Regions from separate parts of the Homo sapiens genome. Here all the other regions are linked to region 1. Evidence: fine-mapped QTL for protein levels in blood plasma. Region 1 holds a variant in brackets. A gene starts in each other region. All regions are shown on their forward strands.

Region 1 (10,802 bases):
GGTGACCTTGGGCAAATAATCACCCTGAGCCACAATTTAGAAAGCAGTGATAACATCTTGTGAAGCAGTCAGTTCATTTATTTTCTATGTTAAAGAACTAGAAAAACCAACAGCAAAAAGGTGAGCTTGGAGGCCTGGGCAAACATGGTGAGCAGGGTTAATATCTGTAGAAAGTAAAAAGTTTCCTCTTCAAAGTGTCCCTTGTTGTTAAAGGAAAATAATAATAATAATAAACATTAGAAATAATAATTTCTTTTAAAGACTAACTTTCTTCAAGCCCCCTTACTTTGTGCTAGTAACTCTTTGTTAAGCCCTATTCTATGTAGCTGTTAGATATAAAGGAATAAGTACATTCTATGTCCTTGTACTTTAACCAAGATATTTATGCTGAACATGCTCACAGGTACATTCCAGCTTGCAGCCTATGCCCCTTCCTTATTTGGAAATATTATTACTTTTCTAAGTCCTTTCACAAGCAACGTCCTCTTTTCCTTTGTTGTCTATTGCCTATACCTATTTAGAAAAGTTTTAAATTATTAGCCAGTCAGGTTTTAGCTTAGATTGTGATGTCTGGCTCCAGCCAATGGAGACAGGACACAGTAGCAGGGACAAGCTGCATAAGGGATACGAATTACTTCCCTCCATTGTTCAGGTGTGCTGTCACCATTGTGCCATCTGTGAGGAGCACTCTTTCTGCAGAAAGTAAAATTGCCTTGCTGAGAAAACTTTTTGTCTGAATGCTCATTTTTCCTTGTGGTACTGAGGAACAAGTATTCTGTTTCTGAATAAATATTTTACATATAACAATATCTTTGTTTTTCAAACTTCTCTCTTTTTCCGTTTTCTTTTCTCTTTTCCTATTTTTCTTTTCTTTTCACTCTTGACCTCTTATGATGACCTTTTCCTCCATTGAAGTGCTAATTGATTTTTCATTTTCTCCTTATTTCAAAATTTATTCACATCACAGAATATGGTATAAGTCATTCACACTGCAGTTAGAATTATTCAGTATTTCCATGAGTCATTTCTCAGAAGGGAATGTATATCAAAAGGAGAATATTTTATGGCTTAAATTATTAAATTATTACAGTGAGTATTGTGGAATCAAAATTCCTCACTCAGCAGACAGGTTCTTTGAGAGGGATATAATGGTCACCACTCACGTAAACTATGGTTTTTAGCTCTATGGAAGGCGTCCGCTGACAGAGCAGCCAGAGAGTCAAGCAGCATGAAGGCAAAAGCAGGTGGTAGTGGAGGGTCACCCTAAAGTCTCTTGTCAGGAGGTTATATATGATATTAAGGTTCTCTCCTGGAGTCTGAAGAATCTTGTATATCAAAAGCCCATACTGAATAGGGCATGTCAAGGAGGACAATTTTTTTTTTGGTCTAATGGTAATGGTAAGAGTAGGAGAGAGAGAAGAGGCTACAAACATTGTAATACAGATCATCCCCAATTAGTATTCACAAAGTTTATTCTAATTCAGTTGTATATTCCCTCAATCACCCTAAATCACAGAAGCAGTCTTTCTCAGAAATGGAAGGCATTTCAGCCCAGCTTCCTATCCCAATAGGAGTCCCTTTTACAAGCATCCAGGTGGCTTATCATTTAGCCTTTGCTTGGATGCTTTCTTCAATGGGAAACCCACACCTTTCTGAGGCAGCTCATTGGGATTTTTTTCCAAGGTCAGTGGGGAAAAAAACCCAGGTATTTGGGGCATATAGTGTACCTGGTGATTGTTACTGATTTACTATTTTGCCCACATCTTGTCTTTTGTTCGTGATAGTTCTGTGGGAAATGCCTATTCCTGGTATACCAGGAACTCTCTTGTTCTTCCTTTGACCCTCATCCCTAAGTTACAACAATAACTTAATCTCCCACTATAATTTGTTTCCCCAGAAACAGAAAATAAGGTTTTTGGGATGAGGGTGAAATGAGACAGAGTCATTACTAGTAAATTTGACTCCTGGAGCATGACTTTGCCATTAAATCAACTTTTGGGTCAAGGTGTGGCTCACAGTCGAGTGTTAGAAACAGTGTGTTTCGTCTAGCAGTTTTCTGTTGTAACACTCTGGATTGCTTACTCAGTGCTCTATTTTGAAACCATTATGTGATTTTAAAAAATTTCTTCAGGCTGGGCGTGGTGGCTCATGCATGTTATCCCACTTTGGGAGGCTGAGGCCGGCAGATCACTTGAGGTCAGGAGTTTGAGACCAGCCTGACCAACATGGAGAAACCCCGTCCCTATTAAAAATACAAAAATTAGCCAGGCGTGGTAGTGCATGCTTGTAATTCCAGCTACTAGGGAGGCTGAGGCAGGAGAATTGCTTGAACCCAGGGGGTGAAATTTGCAGTGAGCCGAGATCACGCCCCTGCACTCCAGGCTGGGTGGCAGAGTGAGACTCCATCTCAAAAAAAAAAAAAATTTCTTCAATTCAAGTGTCTGGATGCAAAATCCTATGACCATTAACTAGTGACACTCTGGGTTAAGGAATAGGTGCAAGCTCCCATGTCCCCAAAGCTTAAGCCTCCTCAGTCCAGACTGAGGGCTGGGGAGGGGGCTCCTTTCCCTGGTGATTCAAATTGAAGAAAAGACAGGTTCTCCCATAAGGTCAAGGTTTGGAATTTACATTCTGCCATCACTCTCCAAACGCAGGGGTGACTTTATAATGAAATCAGGCAAAAACTCCTACTAGGGCAATAACGGTCAGGTGTGAGCCTGGTCTGAGAGCCTAGCAGGGGGTAAGCAGAGAGTTTGAGGGTAACAGTCAACAGTCTTACAGATGGATGACTTACCTATGTTATCATAGGGAATTACGATGCTCCCAGAGTCGACCCACATTTTGGTATAGATAAGGAGGCACAGCGGCATCATTCCGAGGGCAAGCAGTGTGGAGCATGTGGTCATGCTGACGCTGAAAGGCAATGGGCAGATTGATACATCCACCTGTGGTGTTCTAGGGAAGATGCTGTTTTATTTTTATTTTTTAATTTAACTTTTATTTTAAGTTTAGGGGTATATGTGCATGTTTGTTATATAGGTCAACTTGTGTCATGGGGGTTTGTTGTACAGATTATTTCATTGCCTAGGTATTAAGCCTAGTACCCATTAGTTATGTTTCCTGATCCTCTCTTTCCTCCCACCCTCCACCCTCTAATAGGCCCCAGTGTCTGTGTTCCCCTCTATGTGTCCATGCGTTCTCATCATTTAGCTCCCACTTATAAGTGAGAACATGCAGTATTTGGTTTTCTGTCCTTGTGTTACTTTGCTAAGGATAATGGCCTCCAGCTCCATCCATGTTCCTGCAAAAGACTTGATCTAGTCCATTTTTATGGCTGCATAGTATTCCATGGTGTGTATGTACCACATTTTCTTTATCCAGTCTATCATTGATGGGCAATTAGGTTGATTCCATATGTATGCCATTGTAAATAGTGCTGCGGTGGACATATGTGTGCATGTGTCTTTATAATAGAACGATTTGTATTCTTTTGGGTATATACCCAGTAATGGGATTGATGGGTTGAGTGTATTTCTGTTTTTAGGTCTTTGAGGAATTGCCACACTGCTTTCCGCAATGGATGAACTAATTTACACTCCCACCAACAGAAGATAAGTATTCCTTTTTCTCTGTAACCTCGCCAGCATCTGTTAATTTTTGCCTTTTTAATAATAGCCATTCTGACTGATGTGATATGGCATTTCATTGTGGTTTTGATTTGCATTTCTCTAATGATCAGTGATGTTGAACTTTTTTTCATATGATTGTTGGCTGCATGTGTGACTTCTTTTGAGAAGCATCCGTTCATGTCATTTGCCCACTTTTTAATGGGTTTGTTCATTGTTTTCTTGGAATCTAATTAAACTAAAGAGCTTCTGCACAGCAAAGGAAACTATAAGCAGAGTAGACAAACAACCTCCCGAATGGGAGAAAATTTTTATTTTCGATTCATGATAAGAAAGTCCTGCAAGAATCTGTCTCAACCTGTAGCATCGTCTGGTGTGATGAACAGTAATATACATGTGCCTATGTGCCTGAGTGTATTCAGGGCCTGGCCTTGAGCAAAATGGGCCATATTTGGTGTCTTTCCACTTTGCCTTGTGCCGTCCTTCCCTCCCCTTTTATTCTTAAGGGTCAGAAACAGTATTAAACGATGGGTTAAAGTCATCATTAAATAATGTATAAGGTTCGCTGGGTGTGCCATCCTTCAAACATTCAATCAAAGAACAGCAAACACATTTAAAGCAGCTGACACCACCAAGGCTGCATGTGTCTGACCATGCTGAGATGGAATGGGCCTCCCTGGGCCCCTGGAATAGAATGCATGTCCGAGGGAGGAGGCCTCGCTGTGTTGCCATAAAGCAGAAAAATTACTGCCCAAGTGACCCTAGCTTGGGACAAGAAGCGGAAGCTGACTTAAAAATCAAAAGAAAGCATGCAAGCGGCAGGGTAGACATAAATTCTTAGCACTGAGTAAGTTATTGGCAATTTGGCAAATGTGTGTTCAGAAGAACTAGTGTCTGGTATCATCCCTGCTCAGAGTGTTTGCATTTTAATAAGAGGGTCTGGCTGAGTAGGCTATCTACATGGAGACATTAATGCCAAATGATGCTATCTCTAGTACTAGGACAGTGGGTCAAAGAAAGATTTTTGGGGAGTGAGTCTTCCGGGTCCTCTTCAAAGGGATCTGTACACAGCGTACATTCTCTGCCTTTAAAGCCTGAGCTCTAAAGCCACACACTGTCTGGGCTGAAAGCAGGCGGTGCCACTTAGTGTGTTAATTTGAGTAATTTAGTTGACTTCTCTTTACCAGTTTCCTTATCTAAAATGGCTGTAAGGATAGAATGAGCCAATGGTGTCCGGCACTTAGACCAATGCAAAGCACTCTATTAAGAGCTGGTTGCTACTACCATTTTTTTTTTTTTTTTTTTTTTAAATAGGGTCTCTCTCTGTCACCCAGGCCAGAGTACAGGGTCACCAACTTGGCTCACTGAAGCCTGGGCTCAAGTGATCTTTGCACCTCAGCCTCCCGAGTAGCTGGGAATACAGGCATGAGCCACCATGCCAGGCTAATTTTTAAATTTTTTGTAGAGATGGGGTTTCACCATGTTGTCCAGGCTGGTCTCAAACTCCTGGGCTCAGGTGATCCGCTCGCCTAGGCCTTCCAAAGTGCTGGGATTACAGGCGGGAGCCACCGCACCCTGCATCTCTCTGCTGTGATCATTTATGTTACCATGTTTTTGTATCTTGTGTTCCACCAAATAGAATCGGGAAACTTAGAGAAATGAGAAATTTCTCTGAAAGGCCCTTCTCTCAACAGGTCGTCATTGAGGTTGTCAAGAGTAGTAATTTCTTAAGGGTATTATGGGTGTACTTGAAAGAAAATGTTAAATATTTATATTACCTGCCCCCCAAAACAACAACAACAACAACACACTATACTAAGAAAGGAGCTAACAATGAGAAATTTTGTTTCAAGGCACAGTTAAATTTGCACAGTTTGGCAAAATACAGGGTGGGACAAAGTTCATCAGAGAGCTTAACTTCTCTAATAATATATTTATTTTTAACCAGAATGACCTCATTTAAAATAGGCTTAAATAATTTAGATAAAAATACTTGTTTTAGTAGAGCTAAAATATTACAACAGTAACAAATAATGTGGATGTATTTAAAACTTTAAGCAGTTCAATCTATTCTGGTTATAGGTAAATTTAGGCATGAAATAGATGCTAAGGCAGAATTGTACACCAGACAAACAAGTTAATTTGTTATTAATAGTACTTTGTCCTACTTATAATGAAAGTACTGGAGTTTGAAGGTAATTTTTTTCTCTGTTCCTTCCTCTCTTCTTTCAGTGTTCTCTTTTTTTTTATTTTATTTTAAAAAATATATTAGAATGGATTTAAAGTTGTCCCTATAATAAAATCACTTTTTTTTCTGTGCATCCAATATTTTTTTCTAGAGTGTGGTGGGAATCTGGTGGGGAAGTGAGGAGGATTTATTAACTGGGTTCCAGTGAAGAGAAGTCTGAGAATTTTTGTTTTAAAATGTGAGAAAATGTTTAAGAAGGAAGTCTTTTTCTGTCTTTGTTTTTTTTTCAAAGATCCTTGCAAAACCTTTAATTCTGAATATTGCTAAGACAATCTATGACGTTGTATCATAATTTTGAGTTTGGTGAGAGCAGTTTCTTAAGGATCGTGATGAGGGACAAAAGAGGGTTTGGAGAAGGAAAGGTTTAGACTTGTGAGCAGCACTGACGAAGAGACCTTGCAGATGAACAGACGAATAGGTAGCTGGAAGTTGATGCTATTTGAATGAATATAAGAACAAAATCAAACCACTCAAAATGAGATTTAAAACAATTCACAGATAACGAATTTTAAGAAATAATATAGAAGCCTAAATTAGCAAAAGAAAATATTATCTTACACGAAAAAATCTGAAGTTCTATAAAAGGCATGTATATAAAAAATACATACACTGCCTTGAATTTATATTAGACTGACAGAAAAGAGTCAAGTATAAGAAAAATAAAAAAAAAATCTTGGTCTTAATTTTGACTTCAGCTCTATTAACTGCCAGGGAGATTTTCTTTTGTGTGTATGGAAATAAAAGAAAGAATAAATGTAAATTTAGTGAATGTTGAGGAATTCAGTGAAATCAGTGTTAAGCAATGTAAAAGATTGTAATCATATTAGAAGTAAAATACCAAGTTTGAAGGCTCTAACGTAGCGTATATAGGCAGTGCTAGAAACTGGAGAAGTGAAAAGTGATAGAAGCAGTGTAGAGAAAGCTTATGAGCCTGCAAAGTGGTAGTGGGTAGACCTGGGTGATTCCAATTCTGACTCAGGCATACATTGACTCAATGACCTTGGTCAAGGTTATGAATCTTAACTTCATTATCTGCCAAATGCAGAAAATAATAGTACTAACTTTAGAGGATTCTTGGGAGGATGAAATATACCAACTTATTTTGAGTACTTAGCACTGTGCATGGCATATACTAGTGTTTAATAAATATTAGCTAGTAAAATCAGTGCTACTGGAGAGAAACAATGTTTGGTTACTTTTAGGGAGAATAAAGGAAAAAGCCGAATGGTTTTGGGTTAGGTCTCCCAGAGTAGAGAAGAGAAGGACATTTATGGGGTTGACATAGGAAGGATTGATTGCTGTGAATTTGTGGTAAGCTACAGGGTGAGATTTCTTGAATATCTAAAATATCAATGAATGCTGCACTGGAAGCTGAAAAATCTAACAGCATTTGCCCAAAGAACAAAGGATGTGGTAGGAAAGTCTGTAAAATAATAAAAAGGAATGTAGAAAGTAGGTGGCAGGGAAGGAACTGGGGGCAACTGGGAGAAGGATGCATAAGAATGGATTCCCCAAAGAGGAAGCCAAAGAAAGGAAATGAGAAGTCCTTGCATGGTGTCGCTGAGGCCATTAAGAAGGATGAAGACACCGGATATTTGCCTGTGTCTGGGGAGAGAGCAGACAAAAAGGAGATAGGATGTTTCTGTGTCCTCTCAACTATGGGTTTTGGCCACAAGCAGATTCACCTGAAAAGTCACCATCTCTTCTCCCTGATGCTTTTTGTGCATGTGATGTCCATGGCACAGCTGCAACTTAGGTGAAAATATATGTGCACCAATCAGATTCACAAACTCCAGGCTGGGAGTGGTCAGAGAAGGAGCTGAAATAGTACTTGCTGGATTCCAATGATCAAGGACTATTGTCTATTTTTTTTTTGTTTTTCAAAGTCACTAGAGATTGCAAAATGCGGTGGCTTTCCAGGTTCATAAGAGATGACAGAGTGAGAGAGAAATGTTTTGGTTTCTTCTCCCAAGAACCATAACCAAGAGAGTTAAAACCAGGTGGAATGGTTTTGCTGGCATTGTGTGGCATTAGCTCAATTAGTGTAGCTGCCTGTTAACATAAACAGTCATGTCTTCATGCCATTGCTGGAGTTCAAGTGGAGATGGAGAAGGTAAAATTCTAAGTGTACACAACTGGAAATATAAATGTTAGATAGGATTGTATCTAAGTAAATTATCAGGAGACTTTAGTTATCCAGTTCTTAATCCAGAAGAATAAAAAGTTTTGGAAAACTGTTACGCAATAGCTCAGGTTTTACCCTTTTAATTAATTTGTATTAAAGAAATATTGGAATATTGTTTTCCTAACACACAATGCATAATGTCATCATCTTACATAGCAGTATAATTTAACCTCTTCTCAATGATTAAGACCGATCATGATAAACATGATTATCGGTTGTTCTAAAATACCGTGACATCTTCTTGTGTTTGTAGAAGAGTAAGTGATACAGAGACCAGAGACTGGAATAAGTGCTACAGAAACCAGAGAGAATAATTGATAATTAAGAGAGAATATGTGATAGAGAGAATAAGTGATAGAGGATAAATGATAGAGAGATGGCTGTGTGTTGTCAGTGTCTGCTTTGCTTTGCAGGCATTTGATCTTCTCTTTTGCCCTTCCTAACACTCTGCTTCCTTCCCCGCTTCTTATTTCTGGGAAATAGCACAACAGAACTTTAAAATAAAAATAGTTAAGTCGGTCCCGCATGAGGAGCATTTATGAGATTAAGTGAAATTTATTTTGGGTGTGCAGTGTCTTTTATTGGGTCTTGTTGAGCTCTGGATAGGTGAGGTTGCTCCATGTTGCGTTACAGGGCTTATTTTGACTTGCTGGAAGGATTCATTTGCACGGATTTAGCTGGAGGTTTCTACCAAAGCTTCATATTCTACTTTTAGTTCTTATTAAAAAAAATAATTTATAGGAATTGTTATGCTAGGTGGACAGGATTACATAATCATCTCCTGTTTCAAGAGAAATAAGATTTCCTTAAAACCACAGAAAAATGTAACTTGGAGCTTTTAGGTTAGATCTTACTGTTTTTAGCTCACAGAAGAGAATTCATTTCAACAACCTAATAGTCCAGTACCACACACGTTTTTTTTCTGTCTTATAAAAGGGTTCCATATGTGGTATTACATTGAGGTACAAAACTCCTCTGCACTAAAAGTTACAAATATTATGAGAAAGCTGTTTATTGGGGGTCAAGGCCCAATGTTCCAAGTAGTTCACTTTTCTCAGTGTAACAGGTGCTGGCATTTAGAATTCTCACTTCTGTGTACCTGTGTCCAGGTCAAACTAAATTGAGGTCTAAAAAGACCTTATTGCTATATCGTGGTTCACAGATTAACTAAACCTGAATAGCACTTGCCATCCTATGTTGTTTTATAGGGCTTTCCTTAAAAAAAAAAAAGCAATTGCAAGGTGGATATCATGTGTTTTCTTATGTGAAAGACTAAACCATATGAAGGTATAGGGTTTGTATGACTTTTCTAAAGCTTCTGGAGAAACCAGCACCAGTTGAAATGAGACAGCAGGTTCCTAATTGATCACTGGGTACTCTATCAATCCAGTGTTTACAATTCTACACTTTGTGCTTCTCTCCTCTGCCAATAGTAGCTGGGGATGAACAGAGCTAATTGCCTACTGTACAGTATTTAATAAGCACACGTTGCATTAGCACCTGGATGGTTTGCAGAAGGAAATGCATACCTTTCAAGGGAAATGAGGAATTGTGAGCTAAGGAAAAAGACATTTGTCTATTCAACTTTTAGCATTAAATTTCTCAATCTAGTCACATTAATGCTTCATCTTATTTCTATTAGTTTTTTTTTCCAGTGCTAGTTCAGACTGGCACGGGATGAAATGGGCAAACATTGCAATTTAGATTACTCTGTAGGAAGTGGAGAAAACGTTTTCTGTTTATTTTGTAGTAAGGTAAGCATAATTTTAAAAAAGCTGCTATAGGCTTTTTCCCCCACTTTTAATGCCAGTAGAGGTGAAGCAAATTTACAAATTCTTCCTTAGGTTTTATACCAGGAAAATGTTTGCCCAAAGAACTGGCTATATTTGATGGAGTTGACCACTGTCTCACTACAGGTTCTAATGTTTGACAAACAGTTTTATTTTATGATTGCACCCAGAGCTCCTCATCATTACAAAGAAAGTGTATTTTGCTTTTTTTTTCCTGCTACCAACAGGATAAACCTCCTCAGCTGCAGCTTGTGGTTTGGAAAAGATTACTTTTTTAAAAAAGCTTTGAATCTTTTCCTAGAGATCAACAGCAATTATGCAACTCCCTGTTAACTGAGTTAGATTTAAAAACACAAACACAAAATATAAATCCCCCAATTCCAATAGCTAAGCAGCTGTGCTAGAAGGCACGGGAATGCATTTATTCTCTCCTGTTTGATTCCTTAGTCATACTTTAGATGCGTGGCAAATCAGTTGGACATTCAGAATGCCATAGGCTTCTGGAAGGATTACTCCAAGGTGATTGCAGTAGTTAGAGGTATAGATAATCTTACCTCAGGTCCATGTCGCCATCGACCCAATAGGCCAAGATATTGGAGGCAGTTCCTCCAGGGCAGCATCCTATAATGAGCACCACTACGGCCTGGAGCGGGAGGATGTCAAAGGCCACCGACAGGATGAATCCTGTGAGGGGCATGATTCCAAACTGACAGAGGAAGCCAACACAAATGCCCCAC[G/A]GCCGCTTTATGTGCCCTAGAAATTTCTTGATTTCCACGTTGCATCCCATGGAGAACATCACCAAGGCCAACAGGATGGTCAGCACCGTACTTAGGACCACACTTAGGATGTTATTGAAATTGCTCTCAGGTACCACACAGGATGCACCAGAGCAAACTGTTGCATTGTCCACACAGCTGTTCGGATCATTCATTGCTGGGTCTGCTGCTGGAAAG
Region 2 (10,802 bases), not on the chromosome of region 1:
AGCAAAGACAAGCTGTCCCTGCCAAACACCATCCAAATTGCTAATTTAAGAGGAAAATAAATGATTATTATTGTTTTAAGTCACTAAATGTTGGAGTGGTTTATTACACAGCAATAGAAAATGTAACAGATGACTGCTAGGTTTCTGGCTTTCATTCCTGAATGGACAGTTTGTCATTTATTGAGAGAGAGCTCACTGGGAAAGACCCAGGTTTGGGGAAAAAGATCATGAGTTTTGTTTTCAGTTTGAGAGTTTTCAGTGTTCCACAAATCTAAGTTGAGAAGTCATGTGGGCTGTTGGACTTGTGAGACAATAGCTCAGGAGAGATGTTGGGTTTGAAGACAGAAATTTATAAGTCAGCTGGGAATGGGTGGCAACTAAAGCTTTGGAGGTGGAGGTGGATGTAGAGTGACAATAGGAGAGCCTGGGACTGAGGGTGAGGGACTCTGACATTTCATGGCAGGACAGAGGAGAATGAGGCTGCTAAGGAGACATGGAAACATCAAGGCCAGAGATGTAGGAGGAGAACAAGGAGAGGAAGTCTCATGGGAACCAACAGGACAGAGTGTTTCAGAAATGCGGGAGAGATTAGCCAGGTCAAACACTGCCAGGATTACAAGTACATGCTGGGCCAGGCACACTTTCCCCAGGCTTCCTGGTGACCAGCATCACAATAGGCAGCATGGTTGTATTACCAAAAAGCCCTGAGAGGGGACTCTGGTGGGCAAAGGCAAGATGAGGATCACACCTGTGCCCATGAACCAATTCTTCCCTATGGCCTTGCTTCTCAGACTCTGGTCCCTGGACCAGGAGTATCATCCCCTGGGAGCTCATTAGAAATGCAGAATCTCAGGCCCTACCCTGGACATACCGAATCATCTGCATTTTAACAAGATCCCCAGATGACTTGTATGCACACTAATGTGGGAGAATGCATACCATTGAGCCCCCTAAATTGAGGGAATTGGACAGTAACCGGAGAAGCAGCTGGATGATGCAAAACTGAGCTAAAAGTCACATGCAGTGTATTAGAGGCAACTGTTCATTAAACCAACTTTTCCTTAAGTTCCAATTCGTCTCTACACCTAGACTGCACATCAGAATCACCTGAGTAACTTTTCAAAAACCAGAGAGAAACCCAGATCCTTCCCCTCTGGATTCTGACTCAGAAGGTATGGGGGAGACTGGGCATCTGTATTTTCACTTCCCAGGTGACTCTGATGGGCAACCAGGGTTGAGAGCCACTGGCCTAAACTATTAGTCTTCCTCTTTTGAACACCTAACCTTCTTAGACCGACCATTCATAACATCTTTTCTCCATTGAGGCTGGGACTGAGACTAGAGTAGGACATTTTAATCCTGATTGCGTCTCTGACAGGGAGGCAATGTGATTCATTCCAGGTGCATGAGCTCTTCCTACAAGCACTGGCTTCTGACTTGTGCTCAGGTGCCAGCAGGTGGGGCCCAGGCCCCAGCGGGGAGCCAGGCTAATTTAGGATTGGAATGGCAACAGGACCCAGGGCCACAGAGCAGATGGTGGGCGGGCCGCTTATCTTGCAGTTGCATTTGCGGGCTGACACCACCCCGGCTCTGGCCCAAATACTACCCTCTTGAGGTCCAGGGTCTCATCAGAAGTGCACATCTGAGGCTAAGCCCCTAAACCACATATCTTAGGCTAGGCCACTGCACAGAGCTTAGACATGTGACACTGGGCTCAGATAGGCCATCGTGATAGGGCAGACCCCAGGGACCAACCCACACCTGTGTGATCCACACGAACATGGCACTTCAGAGCAGACAAGTGTAGGGCACCACATTTAGGAAAAATCTTCCTGCTGGGATTGTGCCTCTAACAAAGATGCCAGGGAAGGGTTCTAAAATGGCACAATCAGCCTCAAAATGTCAGCAACTTGCAAACTTGGTTCCCTTCAAAAACTCTTCATGGATCAAGCACCTGTGGGTTTTCTGAAACTTTTTTATATGGGGGGAGAAAAAACATTTTTTTCTAGAGAGAAGAAAGCTTTTACACCTTTCCCAGGTTAAAGTTCTCCTGAGTTTTTCTCATTTAACTTAGAAAAACAAGGAAGCTTCCTCTCATTCTAGGAAGGTGGGGTGTGTAAGTAAGTGTGTGTGTGTGTGTGAGAGATTGGGTCTTCAAAGGTTTCACTGGCTCTGAGCAGAGCTGTTCAGTGACTTTTGTCTCCTGGAGCTTGCCTCTTTATGCATCCCTTTTCATGCAGCGGCACATTGCAGCACATCAAATCTTTCATGAAGTCTGGTGGCTGAAAAAAAATCCTGGAATGGAAGTGCCTTGATTTTGTGCACACATTGGAGCATTTTCTCTAACAGCCTTGTGGAGGGGGCAGCGCATGGCGGCTTTTTTGGTGATAACTTAGGGTTCATCCACAGTGACCTCTGACTCCCTTTCTTGGCACGTGTCTGCCATCTCAGAGCTCTCGGATAATTGGTCACCAAAGTCTACTAATTTTCTGTAACTTACATTCCCCCACAGTAATAATAATAACTGCACTCATAACTGGCATTTATTGAGTTGTTATTATGTGTCAAGTCCTCTTCTAAGATTTTTACATGTGCAAACTCATTTAGTACCTATAATAGCCCTGTTGGGGCACAGTGTGAATTTTACACCCCTCCATTTCAGACTAGAAGACTGTGCAAGAAGACTTTAGCAAAGTGAAGCCATTTGCCCACACCATAGTCAGTTAAGAGGCACTGGGGTCAGCCCCCTTTGGTCCCCTGGGATGGCAGTGGAGTGTTAGGAGGGACGGGTGGAACATTTCCCAGGCATGGAGGTCTGTTTTGTCACTGACTCTGTTTAGAATTGTCAGCACATGATAATCATAAAAAGCAGACCAACGGTGGCTCACACCTGTAATCCCAGCACTTTGGGAGGCTGAGGCGGGCTTATTGCGAGGTCAAGAGTTCAAGACCAGTCTGGCCAGCATGGTGAAACCCTGTCTCTACTAAAAATACAAAAAATTAGCTGGGCATGGTGGTGCATGCCTGTAATCCCAGCTACTAGGGAGGCTGAGGCAGGAGAATTTCTTGAACCTGGGAGGCGGAGGTTGCAGTGAGCTGAGATCACACCACTGCACTCCAGCCTGAGCAAGCCAGACTCTGTCTCACACACACACACACACACACAAAGCAGACCAACTTTTAGTCGGTTTTATGATTGCTTTTAAACTCCCTACTTTAAAAGCACGGCCTTGCGTTTGTGCCCCCTGCATGGAACCTTATGAATAGCTTCTGCTTCCTCCAACACCACTTGAGTCTTGAGGCCCATTCATCAGTGCAGTGCTTCCCTGCCCAGGTCTTAGCAGAATCAATTCCTCGGAAAGGTCAGATGGGAAGAGAAAGAAGAGAAAAGCCCAGTAAGTCCTCTGGAACCCAAGTCAAGCTCCACCTCCTCCAGGAAGCCTTTCCTAATGTCCCTGCTCCTAACTGGGTCTCCCTTACCTGCGCAAAGGAAGAGGTGGTATCCTCTCATGAGGCATGGTGGGGAGGGCCGCCTGGTTGCTTTTGGTCGACCTTTGAAGGTCTTCCTTGCTCACCTGCAGTGGCAATGGCTATTTCACTATTTGGTAAACTCTGTTTATATACCTCAAGTCGACCACCAAGCCTGGCTTCTCCTGCCCCACTGCTCTGGCCCCTTCTTCCTCTTAATGTAAGATATGGAGGAAGAAAAGTTGGTGGGCACGTGATTCTGTGCTGGGCAGGCTGTGGTGGGAGGGATGGGGCGGAGGTAGAAGACACTTCATCAGTGTGTCTGAAAACATGCCCAAGACTCGTTCTGCTGGGTGAGTTCCCCAGGGGTCACTTGCCTTCTCATAGGAAGAAGCAAAATGTCCTGCTCCAGGCAATTCAGAGTTACGGCCACTTTTCCCTCCAAGCTGGGTGAGCATCTTGTTTTAAGATCGTTTTTCTAAGCCAAAATTTCTTATTTTTATTCATGCATGGGTCGCAGCCAGTCTACAAGTGTGGGGATATGTGTTGGGGGTTGGGGTGGTGCAGGCATGGAGGAGCTTCTGGCTTACCAGGAGAAGATGGGAGAATCACTGGCCCAGCCAGGGAAGGATGGGTATTTCCTTCAGCCTCCCTCTCTCAGGCCCTGGAGCATCCTCCCTGCCTGAATCTGATGGCTGAGATAGGCCCACTTATGACTAATCATTCCAGACTCCTCACTTCTATGGCACCTGCACAAACTATGTGCTCAGTAAAGAGTTGTTTGGATAAAGGAATGAGCCAACCAGTCCATCTTGGTGGATGATGAGGGGCTTTCTGCCTTCAGTCAGATGAACTTGAGCCAGCCTGAGAGAATGATCTTACCCAGATCTTCCTCCAAACCGTGTGATCCAGCCCTTCCCCAGCAGCAGGCTGCCCTTCCCTCGAGAGCCCCAAGGCCAGGTGTTGAGAGAAAAGCATGTCTAGGGCCTGGGAGAACCAGAATGAGCTGTAGGCCCCGTGGCCCGGGGCTTTCCTGTGTATGCTAAAAAGTGAGCTCTAAACCAGTCTCCTGGTTTCCACTTCCCCAGGCTTGGTGCTCCTGAGTTTCCTGGTATAGCTCTTCTCCTCCCCGTTGCAGCTGGATCCTGGAAGCCCTCAACAGTGTCTGAATTGCAAGGTGATGGCCAAATACACTAAACCAAAGATATTCCTAAACTTTGCCAAACCCTGCGTCTCTCAACTTCCTTCTCTCCATTCTATTTCCTTCCAATGCCCAGCAAAATGGTTGGTACCTTAATGCCAAGACTTTCATTCTAACCCTTAGACACTCCATAGGTCCCCACAGAACACTGTGCTATTAAGCACTTGATGTGGATTCAACCATATACTCATGAATGTCTGATTTTGTTCTGGGAGGTTTCCCTCCCAGAGGGAAATGCTCAGAGTCCCAGAATTTTCAATGACCAGGGTCCCAGAAGTGGCAAGGAGCTTTGGCCTTTGGAAAAGACCCATCTAGTTTGTTGTTTGTTTTTAGGGTTTGAATCTTCTCTTGCTCTGTGAATGATACGGGATAAGTTGCATTGTCTCTTCTGCCTCAGTTTCCTGTCTCTTTCTCTGGTTTTAACACAAACGTTAATATACTAGATAATGAACATATCTAGATCCACACATCCTGGATTTTCTAGGACAACTCCGATTTCAAATACTTTGTCCACATTGTCAAATCCTGTGTCTGATCCTATAATCTAATTTGGGATAAGAAAATATGGTCTTGAGAGTACTTTGAATTCTTCATTTCAGCAGTGGGCTAGAATGTTATTTACTAATATGTAAATAAAAACCATTCTGATTCTGGGCACTGGTCCGGAATGTGTAATTCTGGCCCAGCAGGAACGCAGCTGTGTTGCTGGAGGCCCTTCCTGGGAAGGCTCTGACAGAGCCTCTCCTTCAGCCCTAGGTCCCCATGTCTCACCCACCCCTGGGCACTGGAGAGAAAAGGGGCCTACTCACCTGCACAGAGTGTCCACAACACAGGCCACATCTTCCCCACCATGGTCTTGCTTCTTCTCTGCCCTAAACCTAACCTGTCACTGGCAGCCTCCAGACAGGTCTGAGCTGTCTGGTTAAAGCTACAGCAGCTTCTGGCCTGGCCCAACTGGAGGTCCCTGCAATTTTCCCTCTTCTCACCCACCTCTGCCCAGCCTCAGCTGGATTGGCAGGTGAGCTCCTCAGCTGGATTGGCAGGTGAGCTGGGGCTGGGCTCATGTGTCACCTACTCCAAAGGTCCCAAGAGGAGTCTTCCCTACTTCCCTCAAGTTCCCCTTAAACCAGCCACCTCCCCTGCCTTCTCCCTACTTAACAAGTGTACAAAGTCCTAGACTGCTCACAAAGGGGTAGGCCTCTCTTATAACTGACAGGAAATAAATAATAAAAAGGGAAATGCACTCAGAGGTAGGGTTCCAAGCTAGTAAAAGAAGGGTGTTGCCCATATTTGCTGAAACACTTCAAGACACAATGTGATCTGTTTCTCTACTTCTCTCCTCTTCTACAGCCTCCACCCCACAGTGCGCAAGAGATATAGTCATGAAGAAAACAGGAAGTCTCCCCCTTCAGAGTTTATATTCTGACTGGGAAAGTAGCAAGTTCATAAGTGAAAGAAGATCATCTTGGGGACATGTGACCAACTTGTCTCACTTTTCCTAGGACTGTCCTGGTTTTCAAACCAAAAGGAACCCCCTCAGTCCCAAGCAAATTTGGATGATGGTCACCCTACTGAAAGAATGATCAGTGGTGTGGGACCATAATTCTCCAGGAGCAGTGGCTGTTGCTGGTTTCTTCCATAGATATTTTAGATATATATACACTGTTCTGCAATGATTTATTCATTTTTCATTTAATGAAAGGTTTTAGAAAGCTTTCTGTATCGGTATGTATAGCACCACCACCATCATCTTTTTAAAATGGGGATGATATTTCACTGTATATGAGTGACATGATTTATTTAACCAAACTACTTTTAAGATTGTTTTTCCTCATCTTTCACAACTATGAAAAGATTGCAACCAATATCTATTATGTGTACGATATTTCACACGTGTTGTGATTATACATGTAAGATAAATTCTTAAAAGTAAAATTTCTGACTCACTGAAAGTTATGCATATTTGTAATTTTTATAGATATTGCTAAACTAGCTACCATGAGAATTTTACAGCCTACACTCCTATTAGCAGCATATAAGGATACCTATCTCCCCACACACTCACTAACACAGTTACCAAGTGTTTATGACACAGTTATCAAACTTTCTGCTCATCGCCAATCTAAGTGAACATGATATCCCATGTATATATAATTTACTTTTTAAAATTATTAGTGAAATTTGGCCAGGCGCGGTGGCTCACGCCTGTAATCACAGCACTTTGAGAGGCCAAGGTGGGCTGATCACGAGGTCAAGAGATCGAGGCCATCCTGGCTAACACGGTGAAACCCCGCCTCTACTAAAAATACAAAACATTAGCCAGGTGTGGTGGTGTGCGCCTGTAATCCCAGCTACTTGGGAGGCTGAGGCAGGAGAATGGTGAACTCGGGAGGCAGAGCTTGCAGTGAGCCAAGATGGTGCCACTGCACTCCAGCCTGGGCGACAGAGCAAGACTCTGTCTCAAAAAAAAAAATTATTAGTGAAATTGAAAATCTTTTAATATAGTTGCACATCATATATATTTTCTTTTCTGAGACTAGGTAGCTCATTTGCCCGTATTTCTTTTTTTAATAAATTTTTAAAAATATAGACACAGAATCTCGCTACGTTGACCAGGCTGGTCTTGAATTCCTGGGCTCAAGCAATCCTGCCTCAGTCTCCCAAAATGCTGGGATTACAGGCATGAGCCACCACGTCCAGCCGTTTGGCCATATTTCTATTGAGCTGTTGATCTTTAGCTTGTTGACTTCTAGCAGATCTTTGTATATTAGGGAAAGGAACTTTTGGATGTGATAAGCATTGCAAATATTTCCCCTAGCATTTCTTTGTGTTATGAATTCATAGTATCCTACATGACTTATTGTTATTAATCCTTTTGACTGCTAGGTTTGGTTGACATACAAAATTTGTTGTTTTCTGTTTATTACATTTCACTCAGGCACCTTGTTAATTCTCTTATTATATGTAATAATTGTTCAGCCCCAACATTTTATAATATCTTTGCCAAATTAGTCTTCCTAATTACTTGTCTGCTTGGGTCCTATCACTGACTCTGCAGAACCTAACAAATTAGCTTTTAAGGTATTCTAGCATTTGTTCTCAAACACAGTCTACCTTCCAGAATACGTAATTTATGCTCTGACCAAGTTAGACATATTTTCATACCCAGAACTCATACTTCCTTACCCCCAAAACTTTATTGATGCCACCCCCTCGGTAATTCCCTTCCCCTACTATATCTGCTATTATAATCTTACTTGTCCTTTAGAAGTCAGCTCATATATCACCACTGCTTCTATGAAGTCTTTCCTGATTTCTTCAGTCAGAAGGGCTCTTTCTCACCTTTGAACTCACACAGCACTCTGGATCTCTTTTAGGACACTAACTACATTCTCTCTTATGCTTGAGTTATTTTTGGTCTGTGTCTCATTCCTCCTAATAAACAGTGAGCTCATTCATTCAGCCATTTCTAATGATACGATATACCAGGCATCATTCCACCTAACTAGGAAGAAAGACAACTTTAAGCTATGTGTTTTGCCAATTTTGGTCAAGTAAAGTGTCATATGTAGTAGGTAATCAATGAATATTTTAAGTTGGTAAATGGATGGATAAATGGATGAAAGGATGACTATGGTATGTGTGGGATGAGAGGTGTGGGCTATTTGGCTTTGCTTTGATCATTGTGATGGTAGAGGGGTTAGTAGGGTAAGACAGCTTATTTGACATTTATGAAGCTCATGGAATTCTTAAGTCACCCAGGGTTGCCAATCCATTATCACCTTGGGGTGTGAGTAGAGGGGAGGAAATGTGGAGGGTGAGCACAACTGTCCAGTTGACCATCCTGAGACATGTCTATTAAAAGAAATGCAGGCAGGGCACGGTGGCTCACACCTGTAATCCCAGCACTTTGGTGGACGGAGGTGGATGGATCACTTCAGCCCAGGAGCTCGAGACCAGCCTGGGCAACACAGTGAGACCCCATCTCTACAAAAAATTTAAAAATTATCTGGGTGTGGTGGCATGTGCCTGTACTCCCAGCTACTCAGGAGGCTGAGGTGGGAGAATCACCTGACCCTGAGAGGTTGAGGCCGCAGTGAGCTGTGATGGCACCACTGCACTTTCACCAGGGCAACAGAGCGAGACCCTGTCTAAAAAAAAAGAAAAAGAAATGTAATCCTGGTCACAAGCAATGACTACTCTTTAATTGTACCACAGTGCTCTCCCAATATCTATCTGTTGAGTACCCTTTCCATTCTATATATCTGGTCCTTTTTTTAGGCCTCTCTAGTTGACATGCGGCTGTGGTAAGTTTGTTTATTCTTCTATATCTTTGGATTTAGACTCTCTTCTGGAAGAACTTTGAATAGGCTGTCCCAGGCAAGAGGGTCTGAAGAGAGAACCCAGAGAAAAGCTGTTCTTTAGATTCTCCATCTACCAAGCACAAACGTCTTCCAATTCTGCTGCTAAATGTAAGCGTCTGGAGAATCAGCCAGGAGGGAAAGAGTTAAGTGAGGACTGCTTTGGGGCCTGGGTCCAGAGCCTGCATTCCTTCCTCCCAGAAATCTGCCAGCCTATGGGGCCAGAGGCTAAATTTAGAGGGTGGCTAAGGTTTCCTGTTAACAGCTGTCCTGCCCCTAGGAGAAGAAGCCCTGAGGAAGGAGGTGGCTGGTTCCTGTCTCACTGGCCGGAGCTTCAGCTTCAGTCATTTCATCTGGGTCCCTCAGCCCTTGGTGGGGAACATCCAGGCAGGTTAGAGGTGAGTGTGCTTCTCCCCTTGTCAATCCTGGTGAGCCCAGGACTTACAATACAAGGGGCAGCGGCTTTGCCCTGAGTGTCAGGGCACAACCATGATGGCTGGGACCAGCTGCTGGTATCCTTCATGTCCTTTAATAGGCTCCAGGATGACGCCTGAGCCAAAGGCCCTACCTCCTGTGGCCTTGGTTAGAGACACCGAAGGCCAGCTGTGTCTTCCCCAGCAGAGACAAAGGTGTGCGCATGGGCATAGGTGAGGGGCGTGTGTGTATGCACATCCTATAATTTCAACTGAAAAATCTTGCTGGTCCAGGGAAGTCATTGTTCTTCAACTTTTTGAGCTGAGATCAGGTAACCTGCTGGCTCCTCTGCCTGCTCCCTTGCTGACATCTGTGGAAGGAGCCACACTGGCACTTCAATATTGTCACTTCAAGGTGGGCTCCTAATATGGCGGGGTGCACTTCTTGGTGTCCCGGTAACAGTGGCTGGGCCAGGTCTGACTGGATATTCCTTGCTGGTCTTTTGCCCACCGGGACCTTCCTAGTCCTAGTTCCACTGAGGTGACATCACCAACACAACTTCTCCCCCAACAAAACCTCAGGAACCTAATTCCCTAACTGCCTTTTTCTTGCCAAACTTTCAGAGGTTGGCAGGTTGTCATGGCGACCAGAAAGGACACAGAGGAGGAGCAGGTAGTCCCAAGCGAGGAGGACGAAGCCAACGTGAGGGCGGTGCAGGCCCACTACCTCCGAAGCCCCTCCCCTAGCCAGTAAGTGACCACTTATCTCCCACCCTCACAGCCCCAGCTGGGAGGGGCTGGGGACAGGTTGGGCCATTAGCTCCAGGGAGCCTGCAGCCATCACCTCGGTTCACTCATTTAACAAATATTATTGAGTACTTGTATGTGTCCTACTTTCTGGAGGAGGTAAATATGCAAATAGACTGATTGCAATGTGGCAGGTGTGTGCTAGATATTAATATGACCAGGATCTAGTATGTGGTGGACTAGACAATAGGGAAGGGAACAACTGGACTTGGAAGGTCATAGGAGGCTTGGCTGGAAGAGATGATGATGGACCCGAACCTCAGAGGATGAGTAGGAATTTGGCCCTGCTTGATTCAGTAGGACTGGGGCTGGATATGGGGATGACAGGCCGTAGACTATAAGAAAAGGGATGAGGAGAGGAGAAGCCCATGGAAGCATTCCCTAGCACTAAAATAATTTTTTATCCATAATCAAGCTGTGTCTTTTAAACTGGGACATGTGCATGCCTGGGGCAAGTGGCAAGATGCCAAGAGGCATGAGGCATCTTCCTGGAGAGTCCTCTTTTTACCACAAGTAATTTGAAACTTTCTTTTACATTAAAATCATCGACGT
Region 3 (10,802 bases), not on the chromosome of region 1:
ATGAAGTTTACTGAGAAGATAACGTGCTGTCATCAGGGACTTGGAAGAACTATTGTTCAAACTGAATTGTTAAACTGGCTTCCACATGTAAGTGATGCTTGTGAAAATGAGGGTGAGAACAAACAGCTAGCCAAGGGCCTGTCCACCCCTCCTGGCGCCAGCTGATGATAGATGGCCCACCCCAAGGAGCAGAACAGCCTGCCCTGGAAATGCAGATCAGTTTCCACCACTTTGAAACCTTTACTGGCTGTCAGCCTAGCAGGCGTCACATCTTCCGCATGGGGAGACAGCAGGCTGAGACGCAGGAGGATGCTTAGCCTTAGGCCCTGAAGGTCAGGGCAAGACTCTGCCTCCTGGAACTTAACCCTGAGCTGAGGTTAAAGCATCCTCTGCAATCCAGCTGAGGGGTCAGGTTTCTGGACAGCTCAGCCAGTATTCCCTACCCTCTAGCATCCATCACAATTTAGGGAAAAAGTTCTCCTTCATACTGGTGTTTTACCTTATTTAGCAGAAAAGCCAACTGGTTGACCCCAGGTGGAAATCTCCCATGTTTAAAGGGCCTGGACTTTGTCATTACACAATTGGCTCCTTCTGATAGTAGTTGCTAAAATCCTTTGCTTTTTCACTCCTTGTAGAACCTTAATGCGTTTTGATAAAAACTTGAGGTCCCAGTGACTAGCTCAAGATCACACAGCTGGTCAGTAGCAAAGATGGACAGGACTAGAAGTTAGTTCTGCTGCCATGTTATTTACTTATCCAATAAACCATTTTTAAACATGCAGAATGTATGTATTAGTTACAGTACAGAGTAAGTTTCTGTAACAGGGAGATCCCCAAACTTTTCCTGTACATAACACTTTCAGAAGCTGATAGGTGGTCCAGGGCAGGTAGGCTGCTCAGCTACCTGAGGTTAATCAGGAGCTCAAATTCCTTCTATCTTGTTGCCTGGGTTGTCTTTTTTTTTTTTGAGATGGGGTCTCATTCTATTGCCCAGGCTGGAGTACAGTGGTGTGATCTTGGCTCACCGCAACCTCCACCTCCCAGGTTCAAGTCATCCTCCTGCCTCAGCCTCCCAAGTAGCTGGGACTACAGGCATGCGCCAACAGCCTGGCTAATTTTGTATTTTTAGTAGAGACAGGGTTTCACCATGTTGCCCAGGGTGGTCTCGAACTCCTGAACTCAGGTGATCCACCTGCCTCAGCCTACTAAAGTGCTGGGATTACAGGCGTGAGTCACTGCACCCAGCTGGCACTTTTTTTGTTTGGTAAATGAGGACCAAATGGCAAATATTTTAGGCTTTGTGGGCCAATCGTCACAACTGCTCCATTCTGCTAATGTAATGCCAAAGCAACCCTAGACAATATGTAAACAAATGAGCATGGCGTGTCCCAGTAAGAATTATTATTATTATTATTATTTTTTTTTTTTTTTACAAAACCAGGCTGCAGGTCAGATTTGGCCCATAGGCCAGGTGCGGTGGCTCACGCCTGTAATCCCAGCATTTTGGGAGGCCAAGGCGGGCGGATCATGAGGTCAAGAGATTGAGAACATCCTGACCAACATGGTGAAACCCCATCTCTACTAAAAATACAAAAATTAGCTGGGCGTGGTGGTACGTGCCTGTAGTCCCAACCACTTGGGAGGCTGAGGAAGGAGACTCGATTGAACCCGGGAGGCAGAGATTGCAGTGAGCCAAGATCTCCCCACTGCACTCCAGCCTGGCAACAGAGCGACACTCCATCTCAAAAAAAGAGAAAGATCTGGCCCATAGGTTAACAACCCCTGTCCTGACATGTCCTTTCCACCATCATATCTGTGTTCCAGAAAGAGGAATGAGGAAGTGGAGGGGTTGAATTTTCTCACAAAAACATGATCCACAGGTAGAAATAGTGCAGCATAGTCACACAATAGAATACTACGCTACAACAAGAATGAATGAACCACAACTACACACAACGCGGATGAATCTCACAAGTATAATGTAGAGCAAAAGAAGCTGACACAAAAGATTGCATATTGATTGATTACATTTATATAAAGTATAAAAACAGACAAAATTAATCTATGGTATTAAAAGTCAGGTTGCCTTTGTAAGGGATAGTGACAAGAGAAGACTTCTGAGATCTGGAAATGTTCTATTTCTTTTTCTTTTTTTCTTTTAGAGACAGGGTCTTACTCTGTTGCTTAGGCTGGAGTACAGGATGCAATGGTGCAATTGTTTTATTTGTTGATCTGGATGGCATATGTTCCCATGCATGAGTGTGTCCACATGTGAAAATTCACTAAGCTTACCATTTGTGTACTTTCCTATATGTATACTCCAACAAAAAAAAGTTTGTATAAATTTCAAAAAAAAAAAAATAGTGATTCTGAAGTTGCAATCACTTCTCAGGTCTCTTTCGGCCAAAACTTAGAGGACCACTTATGACTGCAGGGAATCTGGGAAATGCAGGTTCATTAATTTTTTTAATTAATTAATTTATTTATTTATTTTAAGATGGAGTCTTGCTCTGTCACCCAGGCTGGAGTACAATGGCGTGATCTCAGCTCACGCCACCTCCCAGGTTCAAGCGATTCTCCTGCCTCAGCCTCCTGAGTAGCTGGGATTACAGGTGCACGCCACCATGCCTGGCTAATTTGTATTTTTAGGAGAGATGGGGTATCACCATGTTGGCCAGGCTGGTCTTGAACTCCTGACCTCGTGATCCGACCACCTCGGCCTCCCAAAGTGCTGGGATTATAGGCATGAACCACCACGCCTGGCCTGGGAACTGCAGTTTCCAGTTGGGTGGCCATATGCCTCTAAAATTTAGAGGATTCTCTTATTAAAAGGAAGAAGGGAAGAATGTAATCTAGGGGGAAATTAGCAGGCTGTGCTACAGTCCACACAGCAGCACAGGCCCATGACAGTTATCAAATCCTGCTGGGCATGAGCTGTGAAGACCTCCACCCTGGCAGTAGAGTAAGTTCTTTGGTTAGCCCACCTGGCTGCCCTTGCTACTGTTTTCTGGGAATAACTCCCTTGACCTTAGTTCTCTGTATTATCTGAGTTTACTCTCAGATAGGTTATTCGTTTACTATAGAGCATGGTCACACCTTTTTGTCCTTCTTCCCTTTTGCTTTTTTTTCTGCTTGGAACTTGGATATAATGGCAGGAGCTGCATCAGCCATCTAGGGGCCATGAGGGAGTCTTAGAAACCTCAGCCCTGATTTCCTTGGTCTTACGACATTAATAACTGGCTACTTCTGACATTCTTCTATGAGAAAATAAACTCTTATGGTTTAAACCACTGACATTGGGTCTTTGTTACCCAGAGCCAAACACAATTCTCAACTGATATGGAAGGCCTCCCTAAGAAGATGACATTTAAGCTGAGGCTTGAAGGGTTAGCAGGTGGCAGATACCAGAATAGCAGAGGAAAACCAAAAGCCCTTTCCACTCCACTACACTGCTGACTGTCTATCATCCTCTAGGTAGGGAGATAAGAGACTGGAGAAGTCAGGAGAGGAGATTTCAAGGTGGGATTGATTGGCCAGGAATGATAGTGATGCTGTGAGGAAAGGAGGGCTTGGTGATGTGCTCTCATCTCCATGTGTACGTTTCCTTCATGGCACTTGTCACACAGAAGTTGTGATGACATGATGAACACCCGTCTGTCTGTTCTGCTAGACTGGAGTCTCCATGAGGGCAGGGACAATCCTTTCGACTGTTTATCACTGGCATAATGCCTGGCACATGGCAACCATGGAACAAGTTATTGGATAGGCCGTAGTAGAAAGAGCTAGGGTAAGAGGAGGGAGAGAAAAGACACAGAAGCAGAAGAGTGGAAAACCTGGGATTGTGCAGGCTCCTTGTTAAGGGGACACCATCCCATTAGAGCACCACAACACTCCTCAGAGGCAGACAAGGGGGATTGAGGTCAAATGGTTCCTTCAGGCACCCACATGGCATGGGCTGTCCAGCTCACAGCCTGTCTCTCCTGGCTACCCAACAGGCATGATGAGCTCTGAGTTGGCTATCAGTGGTACCCCCCTCCCTAGCCATAACAATTGATCCAAGACATAGGTACATGACTCAGGCTGGACAATTAGAGTCCTTTCCAAGAATTTTTAAACAAGAGCTAAGAAAAGTAGCTACTTCCTCTGCAGCTATGAGAGCATGAGCCTGGGTTTCCTATCATCTGGTCAAGCTTCCCGGAGGTGGCCAGCCTGGGGTAATGAGCCTGGCACCCAGAGAAAAGCAGGGAAAGAGCCACAGAAACAAAGCACTACGGGTCGTCAAATCCCTGGTTCCCGTATGCCTCAGGTCAGCTCCACCCTGCCCTTCCTAGTTTATGAGCCAATAAATTCCTTTTGTGTTTAAGAGAGTTAGTGTTGAGCTTCTCTCTTGAAATCTATCAACTACCTTTCTCTCCAAAATGCACCCTGAATCTGACCACTTCTCATCATCTCCACTGCCACCAGCCTGGTCCAAACTACTAATATGTTTTGCCTGGATGAATATAACAGCCTCCCAATGGTCTCCCTGTTCCTCTCTTGCTCTCCTACAATCCATTTTCCACCCAGCAGGCCAAGTGATCTTAGACAAATGTCAATTAGATTATGTCACTTTCCTGCCTAAACCCTCCAGTGGCTTCTCATCACTTTTAGGGTAAAATACAAACTCCTTACCCTGTTTTACAAGGCCCACCATGAGGAGTGGATACTCCTGTCTGTCCTCTGACTTTATTCCATGCCACTTCCCCCTCATCACTATGATTCAGCTATATTGGCCACCTTTTTGTTCCAGACACATTAAGCTCATTATTTCTTCAGTGTCTTTGTACCTGCTTGCTTTCTTTTCTTTTCTTTTTTTTTCTGAGATGAAGTCTTGCTCTGTTGCCCAGGCTGGAGTGCAGTGGTGCGATCTCAGCTCACTGCAACCTCCGCCTCCCGGGTTCAAGCAGTTCTCCTGTCTCAGCCTCCTGAGTAGCTGGGACTACAGGCGCCTGCCACCACACCTGGCTAATTTTTTTATTTTTAGTAGAGACGGAGTTTCACCTTGTTGGTCAGGCTGGTCTCGAACTCCTGACCTCAGGTGATACACCTGCCTTGGCCTCCCAAAGTGCTGGGATTACAGGCATGAGCCACCACGCCTGGCCTTTGTACCTGCTTTTTCAGGTCTTTGCATGGTTAACCCCTCATCATTCAGTTTTTAGTGTAGTAATATAGTAATCATGTCTCCCCCACCTCATCCCTTTCTATCTTATTATGTTGTTTAAGATATTCACAGAAATGATCACTGCTATAATTATCTTTTAATTATGCTTTTGCTTACTTTTTTGTTGGCTATCTCCCCTGGAGTTTGAGCTCCAATGGAGCAGGGCCCTCACCTGTCTTATTTACCATGTATCTACACAGTAGATGCTCAAGTAACATTTATTCAATGAATAAATGAATGCATTACAAAATGAGGAGGAGCTGGAGTTCCAGGCAGCCCCTAGATTCCCTGTTGGGTCTTCTTTCCTCTGCCCCATGCACACACAGTACACACTGTTGACTAATGTTTAACTCATAGAGGAGTTTGGGCTTGACATGTGACCTCACTCAGCCTCTGTTTCATTTGTGAAGTAAGAAATAAGAGTGGGCGGCTGGGCGTGGTGGCTCATGCCTGTAATCCCAGCACTTTGGGAGTCTGAGGTGGGCAGATCACGAGGTCAGGAGATCAAGACTATCCTGGCTAACACGGTGAAACACCATCTCTACTAAAAATAGAAAAAATTAGCCGGGCATGATGGCACATACTTGTAGTCCCAGCTACTCAGGAGGCTGAGGCAGGAGAATTGCTTGAACCGGGGAGGTGGAGGTTGCAGTGAGCCAAGATTGTGCCACTGCTCTCCAGCCTGGGTGACACAGCGAGACTCCATCTCAAAAAAAAAAAAAAAAAAAAAAAAGGAGTGGGCTTATTTCACATAAGCCCACTCCTTGCTAAACCAACAATGATTGCCTAAGATGCACGGAGCCAGTTGGTGGAAAAGTCCATAGACTATCAGAGTTGAATGGTGCTGGTCAGGTGGGAGGAGCACCTCATTCCTGCTTCCCCATCAAGTTACTTGCCTTGGCCTGCTTCCTACTCTCTGGGTCACTGGTGCTCACACAGCCTTTCCCAACCCCCACCTCCAAAGGTCATATTTTACAGCTCCTTGTGAGGAATTCACATCATGCCATGACCTTCACTATGAGAAAGCACAGGCTGTAAAAGGCCAGCCTGGCTCCCTGCTCCGTGGTTAAATATTGATGATATTGGGCAATAGAGACCTGGAGTGGGCACACTACATATCCCCCTGCAGTGATGGAACCCACAGACCGCAGGTCCTCTGCAGTCCATTCTCCTGCCTGTCCAGAGGATCCGGATGTTTTCTCTTTACTTGAGGCCAACACATAACAATGAAAGCACTGGGCTACTGGTGCTTTCGGATTGTGAAAGTCAGGTGGAGCCTGTTTGCACTCTGAGTGCACTCATTCAAGAGGTCAGTCACCCTGGAGTGATACAGAAGGCTCCAGGCCTGGGCGTGTGCTAAGGCCAGAGCTACCAGATGGGTCCAGCTGCCGCAGGCTCTCCAGGCACTGTCCCCTAAGTGACAGCTGTTACTGCCTGGGAGAGCTCAAGTGCAAAGACTATCCTGTTCTCCCATAAAGAGGAGGAAAAGGAAGATACAGAAATCGGTGCTGCTCCCAACAGCAGATCAAGGCAGTCGTCAGGAACTCAGGATCCGGGGTGAGTGTCCTCATCTTGCCTTGGGGATGGGTGGCCCAGGTCTTTGGCAGAAGTCACAGTCCAATGGCACGATGGTTAAGCCCTGTTTAAAATGCAGAGATCTCCCAGAGGGGCTTAAGGAGACAAGACAACTAAATGCAGTATGACATCCTAAATGGGATCCTGGAACAAGAAAAGAACATTAAAGGCAAAACTAACAAAATGCAAATAAGGCATAAAGTTTAATTTAATCATGCAAATGACAATATGATGCTCACTTTAGAAGCAAACTGGATACGTGCTTTGATAGAAATATGTCTTTGGCCGGGCGCAGTGGCTCACGCCTGTAATTCCAGCACTTTTGGAGGCCGAGGCAGGCCGATCACCTGAGGTCAGGAGTTCGAGACCACCCCGGCTAACGTGGTGAAACCCCATCTCTACTAAAAATACAAAATTGGCCGGGTGCGGTGGCTCATGCCTGTAATCCCAGCACTTTGGGAGGCCGAGGCAGATGGATCACCTCAGGTCAGGAGTTCCGAGACCAGCCTGGCCAATGTGGTGAAATGCTGTCTCTACTAATAATACAAAAATTAGCTGGATGTGGTGGCGGGCACCTATAATCCCAGCTACTCAGGAAGCTGAGGCAGGAGGATCACTTGAACTCGGGAGGCGGAGGTTGCAGTGAGCTGAGATGGTGCCACTACACTCCAGCCTGGGCAACAAGAGTGAAACTCTGTCTCTAAATAAATAAATACAAAATTAGCTGGGCATGGTGGTGGATGCCTATAATCACAGCTACTTGGGAGGCTGAGGCAGGAGAATCACTTGAACCTGGGAGGTGGAGGTTGCAGTGAGCTGAGATCATGCCATTGCACTCCAGCCTGGGCAAAAAGAGTGAAACTCTGTCTCAAAAAAAAGAAAGAAATATGTCGCTTGTTTCTGTGGCATCTAACATAGCTGAGGAGGGCTGACTCTCGGTTCTGGATTTGTATCCAATTTGTCATTTTGGTTTTTTGTTGGTTGGTATGTGTTTACTGTAACAATATTAAACATATTTTAAACATATTTTGGCCAGGCGCGGTGGCTCATGCCTGTAATCCCAGCATTTTGGGAGGACAAGGTGGGCAGGTCGCTTGAACTCAGAAGTTCAAGGCTGGCCTGGGCAAGATGATGAAACCCCATCGCTACAAAAAATACAAAAATTAGCCGGGCGTGGTGGCACATGCCTGTTGTACCAGCTGCTCAGGAGGCTGAGGTGAGAGGATCGCCTGTGCCCGGGAGATGGAGGTTGCAGTGAGCCAAGATGGTGCCATTGCACTCCAGCCTGGGTGACAGAGCCAGACTCTGTCTCAAAAAACAAAAAACAAAAAAACACCACTCCACTGTGGACAATAGCTTACCTGCGTCTTTGTACACTGATCTGATTAGTTCCATTAATTAAATATCAAAAATTGGAATTGTTGTCTCAAAAGGTATAAGTACAATAATACCTACATTTAAAAATGCATACAAAGGCTGGGTGCAGTGGCTCACACCTGTAATCCCAGCACTTTGGGAGGCTGAGGTAGGCGGATCACCAACCTGGCAAACATGGTGAAATCCCATCTCTACTAAAAATACAAAAATTAGCCAGGTGTGGTGGCACATGCCTGTAGTCCCAGCTACTCAGGAGGCTGAGGCAAGAGAATTTCTTGAACCTGGGAGGCGGTGGTTGCAGTGAGCCGAGATCACACCATTGCACTCCAGCCTGGGCAGCAAAAACAAAACTCCATCTCAAAAAAAAAAAAACATACATACAAATAGACAAAATATACATAGAAATATATACACACATTAAAAATGGAATTACATGTATTGTTCTCATGAAAGCAGTGTATACGCATAAGAAACCACACAATACAGGAGTGGTCAACATGAATATCCCATGTGTCTAAATCTCATCCCACACCCTAGAAGAAGACTGTGTTTGGTTTCTCAACTTCAATACTTTTCTTTGTGAGTTCAGGGGTTTGCATATGGCACAGGGGCCTGTGGCTGATGTTACTAATCAATCCAGGCACTCTTACATCTGAGACTGGATGGAATGTCACAATCCTTCTTGGACAGTGCTCTGGACAGTCAGTTGGAGCTAGAACACAAGATCACATCTGTTGGCCATTCTTGTAACTTTGTCTTTCCATGATTTTAGATGGGTAGGTAGGCAGATAGATAGATAGACAGATAGATCGATAGATGATAGATAGATAGATAGATAGATAGATAGATAGATAGATAGAATCTCCCTCAAATGAGTAAGTAGGCAGTGTGCATGTGAGTCCTTGAAAGTCTAAGAAAGGGCCAGGCACGGTGGCTCAGGCCTGTATTCCTAGCATTTTGGGAGGCCGAGGCGAGTGGATTACCTGATGTCACGAGTTCAAGACCAGCCTGGGAAACATGAGGAAACCCCATCATTACTAAAAATACAAAAATTAGCCTGGCGTGGTGGCATGCCCTGTAGTCCCACTACTTGGGAGGCAGAGGCACAAACGAGAACCGCTTGGACCCAGGAGGCATAGGTTGCAGTGAGCTGAGATCACGTCACTGCACTCCAGCCTGGGCGACAGAGCAAGACTCCGTCTCAAAAGAAAAAAAAAGAAAAAAAAAAAAGTCTAAGAAAGGTCTTTTTTTCTCCCTGACTTCCATCTCCACCTTGGCATATGAATGATCATTCACATATGAAAAGCTTAAGTCAGTATTGTATTTGTGTCAAAATATTTTCCCTTGCAATTTGTAGATATGCCTTTTTAGTTTTCTCAGAGCATTTAGTGCTAGAGGAAACTCTGATGTAAAGCTAGTCCTTTTGTTGATACTCCAATTTTCTGTCTGGCTGTTTGCCATCTAGCTGTTTTTGAATGCCCCTGGCTAAGTGTCCAAAGGCTATTTGGGGCTGAGATTGTTGAGCACCTAAGGCAGTGACAGAGTGTGAGGGGACCTGAGAATGCTTCGATCCTCCCTGTACACTTTTTTTCTTGGTGCCCTATGGCATGTTTTATAATTGATCTGTTCAAAACACTTCTCTTGTTTTATTTTAGTTACGTTTATCTCCATTCCTACTCCCTTCCTCCTCCTCCCCAAGACACAGCTTAATGTGTTTAATGCGTGTCCTTTTAAAAAAATGTGTTATTGGGTCAGGCGCGGTGGCTCACTCCTGTAATCCCAGTACTTTGGGAGGCCAAGGCGGGTGGATCACCTGAGGTCAAGAGTTCGAGACCAGCCTGGCCAACATGGTGAAACCCCATCTCTACTAAAAATACAAAAATTAGTGGGGCGGTAGTGACATGCGCCTGTAATTCCAGCTACTTAGGAGGCTGAGACAGGAGAATCGCTTGAACCTGGGAGGCGGAGGTTGCAGTGAGCAGAGATCGTGCCACTGCACTCCAGCCTGGGCGACAGAGTGAGACTCCGTCTCAAAAAAAAAAAAAAAAAAGCGAAATAACTTAACAATTTTAATATTGGCCTGAATAATATATGTTGTCAAAATTAATTTTACCTATTTCTTTTTGTTTTGTAAAGTATGGATGCTAGAAAATTTTATATTAAGTAGTAATAATGCAGTTAGTACAAGAAGACGTCAAAATGTCTGACTGTTTTGAGATTGACTGAGGTTCAGTTTATTATTAATAGTTGGGATGGAAATAGGCCTACACGAAGTAAGGGATTTATCCAGAGAGCATGGATTCAAGTTCTTCCCTTGCAAATAACAGAAACCAATTCTGCTAACTTGTCCAAAAAAAAAAGAAAAAGAAAAAAAAAGCTCTCGGGGTCGGGGCAGGGGGTGCCCTCTCAGCATCAGGAGCCGGCAGCTGCCTTTCCCTCCGGCACTTTTCCCTTTTCTCCTCTCTGTGTCGTAGGCGTGCCAATCCCCAGGAGAGAGGCGTGATAGGCCCAGCCTTTGACATGTGGGGAAACACAGGCCTGTGATTGGCTACCGCATGACACCCAAGGGACAAGTTGCTATGGCAACGCGTGGGCGCGCTGTGGGCTCGTAGAAGCCAGGTGCGGACGCTGAACAGGCAGGCGAAGACCC

Which allele goes with the higher level. Alleles are on the strand shown, and positions count from the first base shown. The strength of an association depends on the size of the effect and on how common the allele is.
With allele A in place of G in region 1, the plasma level of the protein whose gene starts at base 5,611 in region 2 is lower (moderate association).
For the plasma level of the protein whose gene starts at base 6,562 in region 3, A is the low allele of the variant in region 1 and G is the other (weak association).

Evidence for each region. PIP is the posterior inclusion probability: the model's chance that the variant is causal. Protein levels are from antibody-based Olink assays in UK Biobank. Linkage for the fine-mapping came from a reference panel and not from the study's own genotypes, which makes the PIPs less certain.
Region 2: GPA33 starts here. The variant in region 1 is fine-mapped to the plasma level of the GPA33 protein (UK Biobank, PIP above 0.99).
Region 3: it holds the start of SLC51B, and the variant in region 1 is fine-mapped to the plasma level of the SLC51B protein (UK Biobank, PIP above 0.99).

What each region holds. Positions count from the first base shown.
Region 1 is chr13:103,055,470-103,066,271 of GRCh38, forward strand. It overlaps SLC10A2 (solute carrier family 10 member 2), which reads right to left. Exons shown (of 6, transcript NM_000452.3): 1 at 10,404-10,802; 2 at 2,795-2,913. The coding sequence starts at 10,780. Among named protein-coding and RNA genes, the nearest start is that of SLC10A2, 5.5 kb to the right of the region's middle. The variant G/A (reference allele first, on the strand shown) is at 10,587.
Region 2 is chr1:167,084,767-167,095,568 of GRCh38, forward strand. GPA33 (glycoprotein A33) reads right to left here and starts at 5,611. Exons shown (of 7, transcript NM_005814.3): 1 at 5,479-5,611. The coding sequence starts at 5,521. It overlaps STYXL2 (serine/threonine/tyrosine interacting like 2), which reads left to right and starts at 9,309. Exons shown (of 6, transcript NM_001080426.3): 1 at 9,309-9,428; 2 at 10,068-10,193. The coding sequence starts at 10,084. LOC124904451 (a long non-coding RNA gene) reads left to right here and starts at 3,834. Exons shown (of 3, transcript XR_007066717.1): 1 at 3,834-3,918; 2 at 4,557-4,645; 3 at 6,020-6,615. RefSeq lists enhancers at 1,522-2,021, 5,637-5,786.
Region 3 is chr15:65,038,826-65,049,627 of GRCh38, forward strand. SLC51B (SLC51 subunit beta) reads left to right here and starts at 6,562. Exons shown (of 4, transcript NM_178859.4): 1 at 6,562-6,757. It also overlaps a transcript of RASL12 not described here.